Homo sapiens: one gene and its partner. The protein of the gene in region 1 purifies or fractionates together with the protein of each later gene. This does not show direct contact. Each region holds a gene or a part of one and is shown in the gene's direction. Other genes may lie near its edges.

Region 1 (7,027 bases):
ACTGCCTCTCGTAGTCGGCCCCGACGCGGGCAGGGAGAATCATCTTCTGCATCTCAAAGTGGACATCCTTGCAGATGGAGGTGTGCAGGCCTGGGCCACAGATTTAGCTTCGGTCTCTTCTAGAATAGCCCCTCCTAGCCAGAAGTTCAGCTTCTGCTTCCAAAGGGAGCCTGCCCTTGGAAGCAAGCACCTAAAATTGAGAGGTGGGGGAATCTTCCAGCCTGCTCTGTTGTGGTGAACATCGTTGAGGTTAACTGGGCCCTATTCGGTTTAGCTTAGCTGATTTTGACATATGTGTTCAGCAGAGGCCATCTTTAACCCAGTTCCTCTTCTTCCTCTTTGCCCTCTAATGGAAAGGCATCCCTAGAGAGGTCAGAAGGAAAAAGTCAGTATCTGCTCCCACAGCTCTGCGGGAAGGGGCTGGGGAAGGAAATCAAGGTGTCTCCCAGGTCTCCAGATACACCTCCCTTCCATGCCTGGAAGCCAGTGCAGTGGAGCAAATGTGGTTTCCCGGGAGGGGGCTCTGGGGCAGAGACCTAAAGGGGAATTTTGAGAAGCAAAGGAAGAAAAAGCCCCTTAGATTATCTTTAGTAAATGCCTGAATTGGTGAAGGGTTGGAGAATTTGTTTCCTACTGGAGTAATTCATTTTATTTTCCAGCGAGGGAATGTATGTATGTCTCATTTCAGGTGTGCCTGTGCGTGTCTGTAAAGCAGGACAGGAAGCCAGTGGAAGGCTTGATGGTTGGTGTCTGCCATTCTTGGAGGGGTTAGGAGAAGCAGTAAAAGCAACAAGAGTATTTTCAGAAGTGATAGTAGCATGTCCAGCCAAAGCTATCTAATTCTATTAATTGCATTTTAAAATTCAGTTTTTCTATTTCTGCCACGTTGAAGGGTTACTTCAACCACGTTGAACTGGTTACTCCATGCAGGTGGCAGGAGGTAAACTTCGCTTAATATCAAGAAAGTACAGCCTAGCCTTTACATTTCCTCAGATTACCCGACTTTTGCTAAAAGCAATAACGAAAAATCTAATGTTTTCTATCTTTGCTAGTAAAGGATTTCCAGTGGGGTAATTTTTTTAAAACTCATTTAATTTAAAATCTTGTAAGGCATTTTTAGAGTCAGTTTGGAAATTTTAGTTTTTCAGATTTTATCACAATACACTTCTTGAAATCCCTTTCTCTCTCATTCGTAAATCCTTGGATTAGAGTTTGAGACTCCCCTGGTCATTAGAGAAAGACAAAAAGAGCTTTTTCTTACCCTATTCTTTGCCTTTATTAACCCCAAATAACAAAATAATCTGTTATGCAAAAAGATTGCAGGTATAAAAACATTACCTTCCTTTCCACCTACCTAAAACTTCCCTCAGCCTTTGTCAGTTCTAATTTAAAAGCTGTCCTGGAGCTGTTGGAGAAATGGGGAAGATCATCTAGATATTCCAGTTTCTCCTTCCACTCACCCTATAGTACCGGATAGCATCCAATAGCCCAGGGCCTGACCATACAGCCCATGATATTACCCTTTCTGTAGAAAACAGTCACTAAGGCCACTGATGAATGTGGGGGGAGAGGAACACAATTAACAGCTCTGGAAACTCTGGTGACATTTTTCTGTTTTTTCTCTCTCTAGCCCCACCATTGCTCTCTCTGTCTTCAGTTCCCCAGGAGGGCAATGGCATCAAACAGCACAGCTCTGGGGGATGTCAATATTGCATACCTTTTCTACCTAAAGGGAAAATGACTCGCTTTTCTGCTTGCAAATATGGTAGTTTCTGCTTACAAATGTAATACAATGCCCATGACAGCCAAGGACTGGAAGCATAAGTTGCTAGGTCTTACAGGTGATTTTTTACAATGAAGCAAACTCACTATGTTAGACACCATTTACATTGGATGTCTCCAACTAACAAAAGTAACTAAAGACAGATGTAGGTGTAAATTGAGAGTGAAATTTGACCCTTTAGACCGTCACAACTTCCTTGGGCTTATCCTGGGTGCTTATAGGAGAGGTGGGCTCCACCCACAAAAATGGACTGCTCAGAAAAATGAGGGAGAGAGAAAGGGTGGCCACTTTCCCGAGCCAAGAAATTCCTTGAAAAAAAATCAGAACATCTGAAACCAGAGAGCCGATTTCCTTACCGGGAGGCAGTTCCTGGCTAACGAAGAGGAAGCACGATGGGAAGAAAAGTTCACTCCAACGGAAGCCAGTTTGCTGAACATAGCAGATCGCCCAGGAGGACTGGGAGAGACTGCAAACCAGTTCGAGCCCCCAGCATGGCGTTAGGTGTCAGCCAGCTGGCAGGAAGGTCCAGGTGTCTGTGTTCAGAGTCTCAAGGTGAGAAGTTCACTTAGTTGGATTTTAAATACAGCTCAGCATTTACATAGGTGCTTACTAAGTCAACAGTCACATAAAGTAGAGTTCCCAAAGGCAAATGGCCTTCAAACAACCCCAGACTTTCTTGCAAGAGCATGACTTTTCTGGCAAGAGCAAGGCCATGAGCCCTGCCTGGGACCTGGCACTATTCTGAGTGTTGGGGGCATAATGGGGAAAAAGTGGCAGCCACATTAAGATTCATGACCAAGGCCGGGTGTGGTGGCTCACACCTGCAATCCTAGCACTTTGAGAGACTGAGGCAGGCAGATCACTTGAGGCCAGGACAACATGGCAAACTTGGTCTCTACAAAAAATGCAAAAATTAGCCGGGCGAGATGGCATGTGCCTGTAATCTCAGCTACTCAGGAGGCTGAAGCAAGGAGATTGCTTGAGCCCAGGGAAGTCAAGGCTACAGTGAGCCATAATCGTGCCACTGCACTGCAGCCTGGGTGAGAGAGTGACAGTGACAGACCCTGTCTGGGGAAAAAAAAAAAAAAAAGATCCATGACCATAGTCACCACCAAAGGACAGTCTTCCCCATCACAAATCCCAGTAACAGTCCTATTATGGTGATATTATCAATCTGCCCTTTGTAAAGTACTTTTACATACATTATCTCCTACTCCTGCAAGGGACGGGGGAGTGTGGTGGAGGGCTTCTAATGAGGGGTCCTCATTTCCACTAAACTTGGAAAATTGCCTCCCTGTATGAGGATGTGAGAAGGAGGAGGCACAGTGGAGTTGAACTGTAGATGGAGTTATTCTTAAGTAAGTCTGATGAAAATCACACTCCTTTTTTTCTTCCAGACTTTCAAATTGTAAAATAAAGGTGATAAAATGAGAGATTTAGGAATAGAAAATATATTCTTAAATAAGGACATGGGAAAAACAGGTTGAAATTAGTAAGAAACCTCTTATGGAATTACATTCAGTAGGACACAGACACGTTCAATACATTCATTTCATACATTCAAAGGGCATAGGAAAAACAGAATTCATTCATTCAGAATGGCACATTTGATAATGAAATTATTCAGGAGATAGAAATGCAGATTTTAGGCACCTGCTGCTTCAGAGCTGGCAAAACTGACACGCAAATAAGTAGATCCTGGATATTTAGAAGCAGAGGATATTGGAACTTAAAGATCATTATAATCAGAAATTCTTACATTTTGAGAGTGGGAAAAACCAGAGTTGAGGAGGGAACATACTTGTCCAAGTTCCACAAGTTGAGTTGGACTTACACCTGGATCTGTCTCCACTTCTCCTTGCACACCTGCTAGGGGCACGGGAAGGAGCCCAGCCCCTTTGTAGACAATGAGAATAAGCTTTCCCTTTCATGATTTTTTGGGATAAAACTAGGTGATCTAAATCTAGCTCTTGAAAGGGCTGTGGCTATGGTACTTGCATGGATTTGGGGATGGGTAGGAGGGACTGAGTGGAAGTCACCTTAGAATAATCTTTTTTAACCCTGCCCACAGTAAGAAACACATTTTAATTTATATTGTGACCCAGGAGAGGGATACATGCACATCTGAAGAAAAGTTCCATAAAATGATATCCTCTTTAAGGGCAGTGCATCCTCCTAATTCCTATTCTATTGTATTCCATTTTAAAAATGTGGGTCATGACTCTTTAATGACAGCCTGGATTAGGAAACCAATGGGTAGAAGCAGAGTTTGGTGAAATATCAGCAGTGCCCTATTTGGATCAGTTCTGTTTTTGCATGAAAAGTCTGTCTTCACTTGATGAAACCTGCAGGCAGTGCCCCCTGGAGAAGGGCCCACCAGGAAGGGGTGGAAGGCAGAGGTGGCATAGACTGACACCCAGAGATGACTTACTGGGGCATGGCCCTGTGGGGGGTGGACTTGAGCAGCTTCTTCCACCGATGGATAAATGCTAACTTGCATGCATCCTCCCGCATCACCTTCACTGTGTCCTCCGGGCTCCACCAGCCCAGAACATATCGTTCTCACCCATGAGTGCTGGCCTGAGTGCAGCCCAGGGCCCACCAAAAGGAACCCCCTTTAGTGTGGCATCTTGTGAAACCAGCCACAGACCCCCAAAAGCTGGCCACCACTGTCAGGGACGAGAACCTTCCAGTGTTTCTGCCCCTTGAGCGAATCTGCTTCTTCACCTTGTTCCTTTTTTTTTTTTTTTTTTTGAGATGGAGTCTCGCTCTGACGCCCAGGCTGGAATGCAGTGGCGCGATCTCGGCTCACTGCAACCTCCGCCTCCCAGGTTCACGCCATTCTCCTGCCTCAGCCTCCCGAGTAGCTGGGACTACAGACACCCGCCACCACGCCCGGCTAATTTTTTTGTATTTTTAGTAGAGACGGGGTTTCACCGTGTTAGCCAGGATGGTCTCGATCTCCTGACCTCGTGATCCACCCGCCTCGGCCTCCCAAAGTGCTGGGATTACAGGCGTGAGCCACCGCGCCCAGCTCACCTTGTTCATTTTTGCTTGTTCTTTAAAACTCCCTCAGAGGGAACTGACTTTTCTGTAATCATTTTTCTGCTGCCTTCTAATGGTGCCTTTTCCAGACAGTTGCGATGAGCCTGGGGGAGATGACGAATGGCCCTCTCAGGCCACATCTAGCCTGTTCCCCACCAAATGGGTCACTTGGGCCCTCCTTGCCCCCCACACCACTCCATGGCCAGCAGCCGGTGCCAGGTCCCTGACAAGGGTTCTGCTGAGTGGCAGCCATGGCCATGCCTGGGAGAGAAGATGGAGGTCTGGAGGTCTCCGGAAACCAAGAGACAGGTTTCCAGGAGAGCAGGCTGTCAAATGCCCAGTACCTTACCAGCATTACCCTGTCCCCGGTTCCTCTTTGGCCTTTGAGGATCTCTGCTGAGGGCATCCGAGGGCACCCCTCCATGTAGGCACCGAGAAGGGAAAACTTCATGATCTGTCTCCCTGATGCCAGGCACAGAGCCTGGCTGTCAGAACCAGTCCTCATAGGCCTTTGTGCAGGGGACTTTCATCACTTACAGACGAGGAGGAGGCTCCGAGAGGTTCAGGAGGCCCGGGCTGCACAGGTGATACATGCTCAGGGTGGGGTGCAACCTCATGGCAGAGCCTGTGCCCTTTCGGAACTTCACTCCAGTGCCCTGTTCCATACCCTCAGCAATGGAGACAACATCCTCTCAGCTGCTCTGGGCTCTTCCTGCTTCTCCAGCCCTGAGGGCCACTCTGCTCTGTGACCGTGGGGCCTGCCCTGGCACTCCTGGGCCACCCAACCATTCACTTTTGAGTGCAGGCGATAGCTTGTCTGTCTTGGTGGTGAGTTTTTGCAGGACACCACCTGTGTCTAACATGTTGTTTTAAAATGTGTTTTAATAGCTCAAATTATGTAATAGACAAAAGGATCATGTACTTAGAATTTTTTCAAATCCTAGAGAAGTATATAGAGTAACAAGTGATGGCTTGGGATACAAGTGATCAACCACTGTTAATGAATGAGTTTCCCTTCCACTTTCTCCGAAAGGGAGCATGGACTGAAGTTTCCCATCACAGAAGCCCCTGAAGGACTTCAGCTGCAGACAGATATTTCCTTCCTCTTCCCTCATCCTCTAATTACTGCATTTTGGGCAGCAGTGGTGGCAGCCGAATAAGGAAAGGGGTTTATGATGGGAGGGAGGGGGTGCTTCTGTGATGAAGTGGCTGCCGAGGCCACCAGCATGACCGAGGCTGACGGTACCAGCCCCACCAGCAGGTTTTCCATCCAGGGAGGCTGGTCACTGTGACTCAGCAGGAACAAGGGCCTGTGACCAGAGAGAGATCCATTTATATCCTGAGGGAGGGAGAGGAGGGGAATAGAGAAGCCTCCGGTCAGAGAGGAAAAAATGTACACCCTGTTTCTATAAGCCTCATGATGTGGTAGAGAACCGTTTCCTTCCTCTCAGTAGGAAGCAGTCTTTAGGGTTGGGATTTGGCGCAAGTGACTGACTCACCGTCACATGTCTGCACATTGGAAAATTTCTATCAATGGCCCTAGGGCACAGAGGTCCTATGTCACTGTCATGAAGACCGCAAAGGTAGCGACATCCAGGACTGTTGGCCAAATTGTCATTGGAGTCAGTTGAATGGGTTTGTTGGAATGGTGGTTCTCCAACGCACAGGCCCTACTGAATCAATTGAATCCATTTCTGGCCCTACAGACACTGTAAAATAAAAATAAAAGCAGGGCCATACATTGATAGCACTGTGGATTGGAAGTTGGCCGCAAAAGGAAGTCCCAGAGATCACAAGAAAGCCAGAGATAGGGCTTGAAAGGTTGTCTTTTTGGATGGCCTCCCTGTGGCCTCTCCCTGTATCCCACCTGCCTCCACCCCTCCTAGATAGGAGCACTCACCCTACCCCAGCTCAGCTGGCCATTTATCATCATCTTCTTTTTTTATTTAAAAGATCTCCCTTCTCTGGAAGATGATCCCACAGATAACCATTCCAGGGCTTACCCACTCTCAGGTCAGGAAATACTCCCTTGCCCCAAACCTGTACATAGCATGAGGGGTTTATTTAGATTTAAGCCCGTTTTCCTCTTGTTCTGGTCTCTTGGTGACGGAACAGCTATTCATGAGGACGTGCAATGGACATCTGTTCCATTGCTGAGATCCAGAAGAGTTTGTACCAGGGTCATTTTTTCCCTTCTTT
Region 2 (7,027 bases), on another chromosome or scaffold:
GTTAAAAACTCATCCGAGATGGAATTTTCCAGTGGGTAATTTGCATATAGAGTGTTGATTTTTTTTTTCTGTCATAAGCATGGAGATTTTTCCATTTTAAGGTTTTCTATATATTGGAAGTTATTTTAGAATTAAGAGGTATGTTCCCATTAAAAGGGATTCTTATTTTTCACAAAATAGTTAAAATCCTGCAGGTACTCCCTTCTGGCATCCCCCCCCCCCCCCATTAAGTGTGCATTTTAGTCTGTCAGTTTACATGGAGTGCTCCGGTGGAGGTTTAGGGTGTTACGTAACAAAACTTCAGTCACTTCTTTAAGCTCTGGATTGGAATCTTACTGAATTATTGTCATTTTTATAAAAGGTGGAGATGAAGAAGAGAATGATGAGCCACCCAAAGTAGTAGTTACCGAAGTAAAAGAAGAAGATGCTTTTTACTCCAAAAAGTAAGAATCCCCACAACCTGCTGGCGCATGTGTTTTGCAGGCATGGTGGCATGCTTCAGGCTGGAGAATGTCCTCACGGCACTTGACTGAGCTTCCAGTCTCGGGGTCAAGCTTTGCCTGCTCTCAAGTGGAACAGGAAAGAATTCTTGGCCAGTTTATTTAAAAATCCAGTTCTAGAAATGTCCTGGTGGGCAGGTCTCACTCTTTTCTGTCACTTTAGCTCTTTTAAAGTGCTTTAGAGACAGGATCTTCCATGATCTTCCCAACCCCATCCCATCCCATCCCATTCCATCCCGTCTTCTCTCCCTGTGTCTTTCTCCCTCCCCTTCCTCCTCCCCAACAAAGAAATCGCAGAGTCAGTCAGTGATTTCAGGTTTGGCCTCAGAAGGCATCTCTCATCCCTTCCTGGAGACTTGGTTGGCCTTTCTGGATTTTCTCATAGTCAAAAAGTTAAGCACAGTAACCGTCCCTTCCTGTTGAGGACTTATAAAAACTTTCATCTTCCTTTCAATTAAATGAGATTAGTTTTTACAAAGATATTTGCTGAAAAAACATCTGTGCCATTTCAGAAGCTTTCAAAGATGTGTTTTTGTAATGCAAAAATTTCCGAATAATGAGCCAGCAGTTTTCCATGAACAGGTCACCACATCCTGTGGGATTCCCAGGTGTTAGTTTCAAGAACTTTTAAAAGAGGCCAACAATTTCTTCTGTGTTTAAATTTCATTACTCACATGACATAAAGGAGTGACCCAACTTTAAGATTTTTTTTTTTTTTAATTAGAATCAAATGAGGCCAGGCATGGTGGCTCATGCCTGTAATCCCAGCACTTTGGGAGGCTGAGACAGGCAGATCACCTGAGGTCAGGAGTTCCAGACAAACCTGGCCAACATGGTGAAATCCCGTCTCTACTAAAAATATGAAAATTAGCCTAATGTGGTGGCGCACGCCTGTAATCCCAGCTGTTTGGGAGGCTGAGGCATGAGAATTGCTTGAACCCTGAGAAGCAGAGGTTGCAGTGAGCCAAGATCATGCCACTGCACTCCAGCCTGGGCCACAGAGTAAGACTGTCTCAAAAGAAATACATAAATCAATACATGAGCCATGGTTTTGTATTAATAACCTCAGGAGATGCATAGCACAGGAGGCTGGGAAGATATTTGATTACTTTGTTATTAGTTAGACCCTACCCAAGAATGTTTTCCAAATTTATTTAAAAATGTTGTGCAATCAAAAACTGAAAGAGCCTTGAGGTTTGTTTTTTTTTTTTTTTTTTTGAGACGGAGTCTCTTTCTGTCACCCAGGCTGGAGTGCAGTGGCACAATCTCGGCTCACTGCAAGCTCCGCCTCCCAGGTTCATGCCATTCTCCTGCCTCAGCCTCCCGAGTAGCTGGGACTACAGGTGCCCGCCACCACGCTCAGCTAATTTTTTGTATTTTTAGTAGAGACGGGGTTTCACCGTGTTAGCCAGGATGGTCTCAATCTCCTGACCTCATGATCTGCCTGCCTCGGCCTCCCAAAGTGCTGGGATACAGGCGTGAGCCACCGCACCTGGTCGAGGAGAATTTTTAAAATAAGAAATAGGCCACAAAAAAAAAAGGAGGGAGAGGTGGGCGAGATAGGACAGGGTCTTTGTCCTTTATTTGTTCCTGTCTTTAGAGGACCAGATCGGCGATCTTGAGCTCAGGGCCAAAGGAGCAGAATGGCAGGGGTTGGGGGCGGGGGGGGGGGGGGGTTGGTGTTGAGCCCTGATTTTGACTGACTTGAGAACACAGTTTCAGAAAGTGTTATAAAAAGTTTCATGGGGCCCACTGTTTAATTTGAAAAAATGGGGAGGAGTTTTAAAATCTCTAAGCAGATTTTCTTATTCTGGTTTTTGCTCAGGCTCTGTTTGGATCAATTAAAGATTTATCCTGAAGCTTCCTGTACTCATTTAATAGAGATTTTCCACACAAGTGTGAAGAGTGGTTGTTAGAAAACTGTGTGACTTGATTCGTCCTTGAATGCTTGATGGTCCCTATTATTTTTCTCCATAGGTGTAAACTGTTTTACAAGAAAGACAATGAGTTTAAAGAGAAAGGCATAGGTACTCTGCATTTAAAACCTACAGCAAATCAGAAGACACAGCTTTTGGTGCGGGCAGACACCAATTTAGGTGGGTACCTTTTTTCAGTTAGCACAAAATCATCATCACATAGTATATAAAAGCGTTTACCCTGCTGACTCAAGGTTATTAATATGTTTTTAAACAGAGCGCATTCAGGCCAAATTCATCCTGTATTTACTTATTTATAGTTTTGAGTCCCAGGATAATAGTGTGTAAGGAAACATAAATGTGTTAGAAGCTGTAAACAAAATGATTTTTCATTTTCCTTTGTGTTAGAAATGTGACTAAGAAGCTAGAGATTAGACCATTTAATGAACACCCAAGGGAAATTAACCTTTTAAAGGAATCCTTTTTATATAGCAAGTAATGACTAACTGCTTGCTGTCCATCCTCAGTTTTAACCTGAAAAGAGTCCACTGCAAGGATCCTAGTGCCCGGAGGAGGAGGAAGACGGGGCAGGCCTGCGGTGGAGCGGGCAGTAGTGGTAGAGAACAGGGGGCTGTGTTGCAGAAACTCCAGGGAGGCATTTTTCTTTCCCGTGGGCTTGACTAGGGAGTAATAACATGGTCGTGTCACTTTTGCCCAGGGAGCTGTGCCGGCCTGTGACAGAGGTGTCCTTTGTCCGTGTGGCGCAGTGAAGACACTGGGTTGTGCCACCGTGTTCTTCCTTCAGTGCAAAGACGGACAGTGTTGAGAGGGCTGACGGTTCTGAGCGAGGCTGCTGGCTCTGAGAGAAACGCTGTGTGGGTGCAGAGACCCGGGCTGGAGGGAGGACGGAAGGCCACTCCTCACAGTGAGGGCAAGTGCTCCCCGAGGCCTCCCAGTTCTCAGGGAACCAGTCCTGATTTTGTGCTGTCCTGTTGGCTCCCTGTCTTAGATGTATTAAGTTATTTCAGCATTTAATGTTTAGCATATTACAGACTCCTTTGGTGGAGCTATAGCTTCTATAATTTTGATGGGTTTTGTTTGTTTGAATGCAGGCAACATATTGCTGAACGTTCTGATTCCACCCAATATGCCATGTACGCGAACAGGGAAGAATAACGTTCTTATCGTCTGTGTTCCAAATCCACCAATTGACGAGAAGAATGCCACCATGCCAGTCACCATGTTGATTCGGGTAAAAACCAGCGAGGATGCAGACGAGTTGCACAAAATTTTACTGGAGAAAAAGGATGCCTGAACACGCAAAGTCGGCTGCAGAATTATTGCCAAGTTGCTGCTGCTTCCACCGCCCCTTAAAGTTAGTCAGTTTTTCTTCTCTTCTTTGACATTCTAAGAACTTATAGATAACTTAAAACTTTTGTGAGGAAGATTAATGTGGCCAATAAAACCTTTAAATGTTAAGTGTCAAGAAACTGCACTCTCCCTTCTTAAGAACTGCCTAAAGTGTAAAATACATTTGAATGCAATTTTTGGAAGATTTTTTAATGTTCGTTTATTAAACTAACCCTAAGTGATTTCTTCAAGGACTGCAATCAGGGTATCAATTTGCTTTCCCAAAGGCTCTTCCAACCCGTGGGTTTTGGGGTCCACCGCCACCACGAGAGAGGCTTTTGAACAGGTGCCTGGCTGTGTTCAGAAGGAAGCTGGCCTGTGTGCTTCTCTCCGGTGGGCTCAGCCGACGTGTGAGACTTGTTCTGTTACCAAATGAACCGGGCTGCCACGCTGTGACAGGCGTTTGTCCTCTGCTTTATTTTTACTTTGAAGCTCAAATGCGAGTACTAAGTGTTCACCTCAGCGTTCGAATCATTGGCCTGTAACCCTGTGGGCTGCTTCACGAGAATTCAGGACCTGCATTTTCATTCTAAAAAGAAATGAACAGCTTGTGAAGGAGTTTTTTGGCTTCATAGTTTCTATTCATGAGGTAGTGTTACTTCTTTATCCCCCTAAAGACAAAATGAAGATAAAGGGGGATTGCCAGGAATGGGTTTAAAAGCACAAATGTGGTAGCTTATCATCTACACCATGGAGAGTGAACCCTTACGAAATGAAAGTCAAATGAGACCATCCGAGAAAAAGATGCGCATAGGCATTTGTACCATGATCAACCCCACGCACATGAAAACTGTGACCAAGTGACGTGCCTGGGAGCTTTGACACACGAGCCGTGTGAATTCACTAGGAAACATGTAATAAAGTCATGGAAGAGAAAATCGTGTGTAAACTTTGCCTTTAACTTTAGACCGCAGTATATTATAATACATTTGATATCTGAAATATCTTTACTTTTTTAAGAGTAAGATTCCATATGTCTGTCTGGAAGGGAGCCATGGTTATTCACACGAATATCCCTGTCACTTCTCCAGAGGTGTCAGGTAACTAACACGAGCATTCTTTGAAGACTCTGGGCACATGAATGATACACAGAATTGAATGTTTAAATTTCCACTGAGTCCTCATGAATCATTTGAGACTAGTACCAGCTGATCTTGTGTACAGGCTCAGGGTCAGTGCCCAAGGGCTCCCGCGTGTGTGTTCTGATCTTCAGTGCGTAGCACATTCTCCATTTAGAAAAGAGTGGTCAGAATAATTGTGGACGGTACAGTGGCTTTTTAAAACTACAGTCTTTAGGTGTAAGGTTTGGCGCCGGGAGCAATTTTATGATCAAATATGATGAACTCCTAAGTCACTGAGGTGTGATTGGGCCAATGTTGGCATGAGGTTCTTGCTCTACTTCCAGTGTTTTGATTCCACTGGGAGAATTTGGCCTAGTGTGTGGCTTTGGATGAATCCGTGTAGAGAGAGGTGAGCTTGTCCTGTTACAGATGCTGTCAGACATAGCGATAGTAGGCACCTAGGGAGGAAGTGGCCGTTAGTTTTACACTGACTTTTTAAGAATGGAGAATGCACGTGGGTTTCTGTTGCGGATGATTCATAGTAAGCAAGCGGTTGATGCTGTTAATACCGGCCCCACCCGATTGACATTAAGTTTATTCAGCTTTTAAAAAGATGAAGAACTAAGGGGAACAAATTTAAGTTTGTTGCAACTTAGCCACACATGCTTCCCTGGTACCAGCTGGAATCAGCAGCTCACAGGCATCTTCAGGACACTTCAGTGTATATGACACAGTACTTTGTTAGCGTCTGCGTGTGTATGGAAAGTTGACAAAAAATGGCATGAAAAGATCATGATTGGATTTTCTTTTAAACCTGCCCTTCTGTAAAAAATAGTTTATATATTTTTAAATTAGTAGGTATGTGTGGCTTCCTTTTTTCCTAACATTCCCAGCAAATTTTTGCTGCTAAGACTATCACTGTTAAAGTGAAAATTACAGGGAAAAATGTGATGAATATACCGTAACTCAAAATGTGATATTTTCTTAAAATCACTCTTTTATGCTTTAGGAACTGGTTGGTCTCCACTTTGATTATTAGTGTAAAGAGCCTGAGTATACGTGGATTTCATTGTAAAATTTAACTCCTTGTCTTTTACTTGGGGCACGGGGCCCCTGGAGGGCTTCCCTACTTTCCCCACTATGTTAACAGGTAATTCTGATTTATGCGTTTAGTTTGACTTATTTTTAACAAAATATTAGAAGTTATGCTTTAAAATGTTTAATGTGGACTGAAATTTTCATCTTTTGTTTGAGAATCTATGAAGTGTATCATATACGTGGCCTAAAGCAAGGTGTGTATTTTGTTATTCTGAAATTGTTTTGCATCTGGACAAATACTAAATATCCCAGTGGCCTTTTTTTTTTTTTTTTTAAAACCTGTGTATCCATCTCATCCTTTTGCGCATTCCTAGTAAGCAAAAAAATTTGTTATGCCATCTTCATTATTCGAATTACAGACTGAAAAAATATGGCCAGTTTTTAAAGAAGTTTAGATTATGTTTTCCATGGAAGGACAAGTCTGACTGTTCATAGGCTGATTTTCTTTAAGAGGATTATTCTGTTTTACAATTTCAATTCTAGATCACATTTTATATATGCTGCATGCCAAAAAAAAAAAAAAGAGAAAACTGCCTTTTCTGGTGTGGAGGGGAAGAAAAACTAATATTCTACCTTACTAGTAGAGTTCAAAACAAGTTTTCACTGAGAGCCTTTTCAGTAAAAGTTAAACAAGTTTGTTTTTTGAGCATTTGTCAGTTATTCTATTTCAGAAGAGTCAAAATTCAAGCACGATACATTTTGAAGGCTTTGCAAACTCCTAAACCCCTGATGAGTCCTCTCATTCTGGAAGTGGGAATTTGAGTAGATACTGATTTGTCCCGTAGTATGGCAGATGACAGGGAGGTCTTTTCCAAGCAGGCACTCAGAACACAGGTCACCGTATGTTCTCAGCCAGTAACAATCATACTGAGGACGAAGGACTCTCCGTTTGATGCAGACACAATTGTAATGGAGATGTAAAACTTCTTAGCAATCAGATGGATAAATTGTTTGCTTTTTACTTTAAATAGGAAATTGTTTTCTAAAACTAAAATACTTGAATTGTCAGACAATATAATCTCAGCTTGTATTAGTTTTTGAA

The links. Proteins that work in one complex are often made in the same cells at the same time.
Region 2: the proteins of DUSP4 (region 1) and NUP50 purify together in Homo sapiens (affinity purification with mass spectrometry, with the first as the bait; 2 studies listed by BioGRID). This does not show direct contact.

The regions. Positions count from the first base shown.
Region 1 is NC_000008.11:29,340,678-29,347,704, reverse strand, and holds part of DUSP4 (dual specificity protein phosphatase 4), read left to right. Parts: intron 1-1,630; exon of another isoform or gene 1,631-2,175; coding exon of another isoform or gene 2,176-2,335; intron 2,336-7,027. UniProt on the Homo sapiens protein: Regulates mitogenic signal transduction by dephosphorylating both Thr and Tyr residues on MAP kinases ERK1 and ERK2.
Region 2 is NC_000022.11:45,180,925-45,187,951, forward strand, and holds part of NUP50 (nuclear pore complex protein Nup50), read left to right. Parts: intron 1-361; coding exon 362-443; intron 444-2,477; coding exon 2,478-2,596; intron 2,597-3,528; coding exon 3,529-3,731; 3' UTR 3,732-7,027. UniProt on the Homo sapiens protein: Component of the nuclear pore complex that has a direct role in nuclear protein import. Actively displaces NLSs from importin-alpha, and facilitates disassembly of the importin-alpha:beta-cargo complex and importin recycling.